Homo sapiens: one gene and its partner. The protein of the gene in region 2 purifies or fractionates together with the protein of the main gene of each other region. This does not show direct contact. Each region holds a gene or a part of one and is shown on either strand. Other genes may lie near its edges.

Region 1 (3,500 bases), on a different chromosome or scaffold from region 2:
AAGGATTAGGATAGTTCTATACCTTTTGCACGCATCTTGAGACACAGGCAGAAATCATAGTTGTGGAGGTGCCAGGATGAATTGTCAGGGAATGTAAAGTAATTGCTACATCCTGAATTGGGGATCCAAGCAATGGTCCTAGACAAGGGAAAAAAATTGTATCATACTCTGCTAGATGTGAAGTGAGAAGTAACTGAGAAGTGCAAAGGAATAGGGAGAAAACACTAACAAAGTTAGGAAAAAGACTGAAATAATCTGTAATATAAGGAGTGATTAAATGGTTGAGTGGGATACTAATGCTTACTCTCATTTGAGTGTCTTACCTTGGAGACATGCGCTGTGAATTCCATTTTCAATGGCCTCTTGGGAGACCTTCAAAAGGCCTTCATTGATACTTTCAGCATACTCAAACTCAATCACAGGCATAACAGATGATGTTTCAATTGGCCTTGCTTCCACTTCTACAGTCACAAGATGCCTTTTGTCTCCTAAAGTTCTATCTAAGGTATCTGTAAACAAATTGAATATGGCACCTCAGAGATTAATTCTGGAAAGGTATCAAGGTACTATAAACAGCAAAATTATCATCAACAAGCTCAGGGTCTCATACAAGATAAAGTGGGAGAGAATATTAACAATGGCACTAAATACAGTATAAAAATCAGAGTAAAGAGCTCTACCAACAAAGCATCTGCTTCTGTGTTGATCAATGTTAAAAACCTGCTCTGTATCACCTATTGTTTTAACATTAAGATATGTTGAGGCACATGTTACGAAGATTATACTTTTAAACTTTTCAAAATGTCTTGTAGGTGATTGAAATCCTCTTAGTTACAAACTTTTATATTAAAAAAATTAAATGATAAAACCTTTACAAATATAAAAGGTAAGCTAATGAAAATTAAACGACTTTAAATCCTGACAACCCACAAAATGTTTTATATTGTGTATTTTTCCAGCAATATTTTATGCACTTACTGTTTACAATTTCTTTCCCAAAAAACCAGTAAAGTGTTTTTGGTAAGATTGAAAACAGCATCTCTTATTTGCTAAAAACCAACAATCTCCAATATTTTACTATGTCTGTTACCAATCTCCAATATTTTACTAAAACAAAACTATGCCATATTTATGTGAGGGACCATGTAATGCAGTGATTCATGGCCCAAATTCAAAACTAAGAATTATAGTCTATAATTCTTCATAATTCCTTTGTATGCTTACGTTTTATACTGTGAAACATTTTCTATTTAAAATTATACAGGCTGGATGTGGTGGCTTACACCTGTAATCCCACCCAGCACTTTGGGAAGCCAAAGTGGGAGGATTACTTGAGGCCAGGAATTTGAGACTAGCCTGGGCAATATAGCAAGACTCCGTCTCTGTAAAAAATAATAAAAATTAGCTGAGTATGGTAGTGCACACCTGTAGTCCTAGCTACTTGGGAGACTGAGGCGGGAGGATTGCTGGAGCCCAGGAGTTCAAGGCTACAGTCAGCTAAGATCTTGCCATTGTATGCCAGCCTGCTCAACAGAGCAAGACATTGTCTCAATATATACATGTTTATATATAAATATACGTTTATATATGAGTATATACATATTTATGTACAAGCTAAAAATGAGCATTCATGAAACCTAAAACTACTAAAGAGAGTATTACCAATATTTAGATGCCTTCTGAAGCAACCACTATCATATGTTATCCTCATTATTTTCTTTAGTGTTATATCACATATGCATGTATTTCTAAGCAATAGTTTACTTCTGCTTCATTTTAAATTTGTTATGCCATATGTATACGGCAACTTTTTTGTTCTATGTGTTTGGGAGAGTCGTCTGCACTATTTTCCGACTCCAGCCCTACTCCCCAACTTCTAACAGTCAGCACTTGGCATTCCACTATGAGGAAGACCCCTCCCTCTTCTTCCCTATTTACCTATGTATTATTATAAGTATGAACTTAGAAACTATTTTTTCCCAATGGTCTATACTTGGTATTCAAATTAATCCAGATTTGGCCAGCAGAGTCTCTTCAAGCTGGTTCCTGTGTCCTTATATACCCCCTCACCATCATTTTTTGACCATTTCCTCTCTCACACATAGCATGATATTCCATTATCCTTTCTTATGTTTTATTTCATTTTTAATTAACAAATAATTGTATATATTTATGGGGTATGTGATGTTTCAATACATGTATACATCGTGGAATGATAAAAATCAGGCAAATTAACATCTATCATGTCAAAAAACTTATTTCTTTGTACTGAGATTTAAAATATAAATTATTAACTATAGTCACTGTGCTGTGTAACAGATCATGAGAACCTATTTCTCCTGTCCAGCTGAAACTCCGTACCCCACTTCATCAACATCTCTCCTTTCCCCAGCTTTCCAATCCTCAGCCTCTGGTAGCCATCATTCTACTCTTCTACAAGTTAGACTTTTAAAAGTTCCACATATGTGAGATCATGCCCATCGCACCTATTTTTGATCGTTTCTTGTTCCTTACTAACACAAGTGGCCCTTGAATAATGTGGGGGCTAGGCGTGCTAAACCCCCATGCAGTAAAAAATACATGCCTAAATTTTGACTCCCCTGAAACTTAACTACTATAGAATACTGTTAACAGGAAGACTTACCAACAAATAAACAGTCAATTAACACGTTACATGTATTTTATATTGTATTTTTACAATAAACTAGAAAAAAAAGTTACCAAGAAAATCGTAAGAGAAAATATATTTACTATTTATTAAGTAAAAGTAGAACATCATAAAGGTCTTTATCCTCGTCATCTTTGCACTGAATAGCCTGAGGAGTAAGAAAAGGAGGGGTTTGGCTTGCTGTCTGAGGGATGGCAAAGGCAGGACAATAATCCATGTGTAAGTGTACCTGCATACATACTTTAAACCCATGTTGTTCAAGGGTCAACTGTACTTTCTATCGCCTCTCTTATTTCTTCAAAGATAGTATTTTATATTCTACATCTCATAATTCCAATAACTGAAGCCTTTGCTGGTATGACTACCTATTGTTTCTATTGCCTTTTTGCTCATTGTGCTTTTTCTCATGGTTTTCTGATTTAATTTTATTATGAGTTAATATTCTTTTATGTGTGGGGGTTTCTTTTTTTTTTTTTTTTTTTTTTTTTTGAGATGGCGTCTCACTCTGTTGCCTGGGTTGGAGTGTAATGGCACGATCTCAGCTCACTGCAACTTCGCCTCTGGGATTCAAGCAATTCTCCTGCCTCATCCTCCTGAGTAGCTGGGATTATAGGCACTCGCCACCATTCCCAGCTAGTTTTTGTATTTTTAGTAGAAACGGGGTCACCATATTGGCCAGGCTGGTCTCGAACTCCAGACTTCGTGATCTGCCCACCTCAGCTTCCCAAAGTGCTGGGATTACAGGCGTGAGCCACCAGACCTGGCCATGTGTGGCATCTGAGGCCTGGGTTGATGATATCTTTGGAGAAGCCCTTTTTTCCAGGTTCCTTGG
Region 2 (3,500 bases):
CTTTTGGTCAAAGCCATTCAACAAGTCTCTAGGAAGTTCCACACTTTCCCACATTTTCCTATCTTCGTCTGAGCCCTCCAAACTGTTCCAACCTCTGCCTGTTATGCAGTTCCAAAGTTGCTTCCATATTTTCAGGTATCTTTTCAGCAGCTCCCCACTCTACTGGTACCAATTTACTGTATTAGTTTTTTTTTTTTTTTTTCGTGCTGCTGATGAAGACATTCCCAAGACTGGGCAATTTACAAAGAAAGAGGTTTAATTGAACTTACAGTTCTACGTGGCTGGGGAAGTCTTACAATAATGATGGAAGGCAAGGAGGAGCAAGTCATGTCTTACATGGATGGCAGCAAGCAAAGAGAGCTTGTGCAGGAAAACTCCCCCTTATAATAACCATCAGATCTTATGAGACTTACTCATTATCATGAGAACTGCAAGGGAAAGACCTGCCCCACATGATTCAATTACCTCCCATTGGATCCCTCCCACAACTTACGGGAATTCAAGATGAGATTTGTGTGGGGACACAGCCAAATCATATCAGTAATATTGTCCTTATACAATGAATTGGAAAGTGCTCCTTCCTCTGCTGTCTTTAAAAAGGGTTTCTGAATAATTGGTATTAATTCTTCTTGAAATGGTTGGTATCATTCAGTGGTAAAGGCATCTGGGCCTCAACTTTGTTTTTCTGGTGAAAACATATACATGTATTTAGAATTAGCCAGCTGGATTCAGTTTAGATGATCCCAATTTTGTTGGCAACATCCAAGACATGGTAATCAGGAGCCAGTCGAACATATGCCTTCTTCTCTCCATCAGGCCTAATCAGGGTGTTGAACCTTGGCCACATAAACATCATAGAGCTTCTTCACAACCTGTTTGATCTGGTGCTTGTTGGTTTTAACATCTACAATGAACACAAGTGTGTTGTTGTCGTCTTCTATCTTCTTCATGGCATACTCAGTGGTCAGTGGAAGCTTGATGATAGCATAGTGGTCAAGCTTGTTTCTCCTGGGGGTGCTCTCCAGAGTCTCAGTATCTTGGGCCACCGGAAGGTGGGTGATGTATGGATATTCTTTTTTTCATGGCAGTGGACACCTTTCTACACTGCCTTCTTGGCCTTCAAAACCTTTGCATCGCTTCAGCTTTAGGAGGGGCAGGAGCTTCCTTCTTTGCTTTCAGTGCCATCTTGTGAAAACGACTTTTCTTTAGGAGTAGTTTTGATAACTAAGTCAAAATCTTTACTTGCTATATGTCTATTCACATTGTCTCTTTCATCTTGATTCAGTTTCAGTAGTTTGTGTCTTTCTAGGAATTTGCCCCTTTCATCCAAGGTACCTAATTTTTTGTTGTACAGGTTTCATAGTATTCTTTTATAATTTTTTTATTTCTATATAATCTGTAGTAATGTGCTCTCTCTCATTTCTGATTCTAATACAGTCATGCCTCAGTTAATGATGGGAACTCATTCTGACAAGTGCATCATTGTGCAAACATCATAGAGTGTACCTCCACAAACCTAGATGATATAGCCTACTGCATCCCTAGGCTATGTGATATAGCCTATTGCTCTTAGATTACAAACCTGTACTAGTAGACAATTGTAACACAATGATAAGTATTTGAGTTCCTAAACATGTGAACATAGAAAAGGCCCAATAAAAATATGGTATAAAAGGTTAAAAAAGATGATGTAGTTGTCTAGGGCACTTACCATGAATGGAGCTTGCAGGACTGGATCTTGTCTGGGTGAGTCAGTGAGTGGTGAGTGAATGTGAAGGCCTGGGACATTCCTGTACACTACTATGGACTTTATAAACACTGTACATTTAGGCTACACCAAATCTGTAAATTTTTTTTTCCTTCCTTCAATATTAACTTCGTGTAACTATTTTACTTTATAAACTTTTTAATTTTTAAAACTTTTTCACTCGTTTTAACACTTAGCTTAAAAAACAAAAACTGTACAGCTGTACAAAAAATGTTCTTTCTTTATATTCGTATTCTATAAACATTTTTGTATTTTTAACTTAAACTTTTTTTTACTTAAAAATTTTTTTGTTAAAAACTAAGATAGAAACACAGACATTGGCCGGGCGCAGTGGCTCACACCTGTAATCCCAGCACTTTGGGAGGCCAAGGCAGGCGGATCACGAGGTCAGGAGATCGAGACCATCCTGGCTAACACAGTGAAACCCTGTCTCTACTAAAAATACAAAAAATTAGCTGGGCATGGTGGCAGGCACCTGTAGTCCCAGCTACTCGGGAGGCTGAGGCTGAGGCAGGATAATCGCTTGAACCTGAGAGGCAGAGGTTGTAGTGAGCTGAGATTGCGCCACTGCACTCCAGCCTGGGTGACGGAGTGTGACTCCTTCTCAAAAAAAAAAAAAAAAAGAAACACAGACATTAACCTAGGTCTACACAAGGACAGGTTCATCAACATCACTGTCTTTCACCTCCACATCTTGTCGCGTTGGAGGATCTTCAGGGGCAGACACACATGGAGCTGTCAACTCCTATGTCCTCTGATAACAATGCCTTCTTCTGGAAAACTGCATGAGGCTGTTTTATAGTTACCTTTTTTATTTGTAAGTAGGAGTACACTCTAAAATAACATTACAATGTATAGTATCAAAAATACATAAATCAGTAAGTCATTTATTATCATTATCAAATATTATATATAGAACTTCATTATATGTGCTATACTTTTAACTGGCAGTGAAGTAGGTTTGTTTACATCAGCATTACCACAAACACCTGAGTAACGCATTGACTTATGACATTACTAAGCGATAGGAATTTTCCTCCTCCATTATAATATTATGGGACCACCGTCACATATGTGGTTCATTGTTGACCGAAACGTCATCATGCAGTGCGTGACTATAATTTGAGTCTTATTTTTTCCCTGTGCTAATTTTTTAACACAATTAGTTGTGCCAATATATCGATCTATTTAAAGAACTAGATTTTGAGTTCATTAATTTACTCTGTTGTTTTTCTGTTCTCCGTCTCATTAATTTCTGCTCTAATCTGTATTATTTTCTTCCTTCTGCTTGCTTTATCTATAGTTTGCTCTTCTTTTTCGAGTGTCTTAGAGTGGATTATTAGGTTATAGATTGAGATATTTCTTCTTCCTTAATAGACATTTAGGAAGGATATTTCTTCTTCCTTAATAGACAATTTCTCTGTAAACTTCAGCTACGTTAGCTGTATCCCATAGGTTTTGGTATGTTGTGTCTTCATTTTCATTCGTCTTATTTTCTGATTTCTCTTTTGATTTCTTTTTAGACCAGTTGGTTATTTAGGAGTGTGCTATTTAATTTTTATATAGCTGTGATGTTCCCCAGTTTCTTCCTGCTATTGATTTCTAATTTTATTCCATTGTGGTAGGAGAGTGTATTTTGTATTATCTCTATCCTTTTAAGTGTATTGAGGTTTATCTTATGGCCAAGCATATGGTTTATTTTGGAGAATGTTCTATGTGCACTTTAAAAGAA

What was found. Proteins that work in one complex are often made in the same cells at the same time.
Region 1: the proteins of TNFRSF10A (region 2) and GFM2 purify together in Homo sapiens (affinity purification with mass spectrometry; one large-scale study listed by BioGRID and IntAct). This does not show direct contact.

The regions. Positions count from the first base shown.
Region 1 is NC_000005.10:74,725,618-74,729,117, forward strand, and holds part of GFM2 (ribosome-releasing factor 2, mitochondrial), read right to left. Parts: intron 510-3,500; coding exon 324-509; intron 139-323; coding exon 23-138; intron 1-22.
Region 2 is NC_000008.11:23,204,603-23,208,102, reverse strand, and holds part of TNFRSF10A (tumor necrosis factor receptor superfamily member 10A), read left to right. Parts: intron 1-686; exon of another isoform or gene 687-1,195; intron 1,196-3,500. UniProt on the Homo sapiens protein: Receptor for the cytotoxic ligand TNFSF10/TRAIL. The adapter molecule FADD recruits caspase-8 to the activated receptor.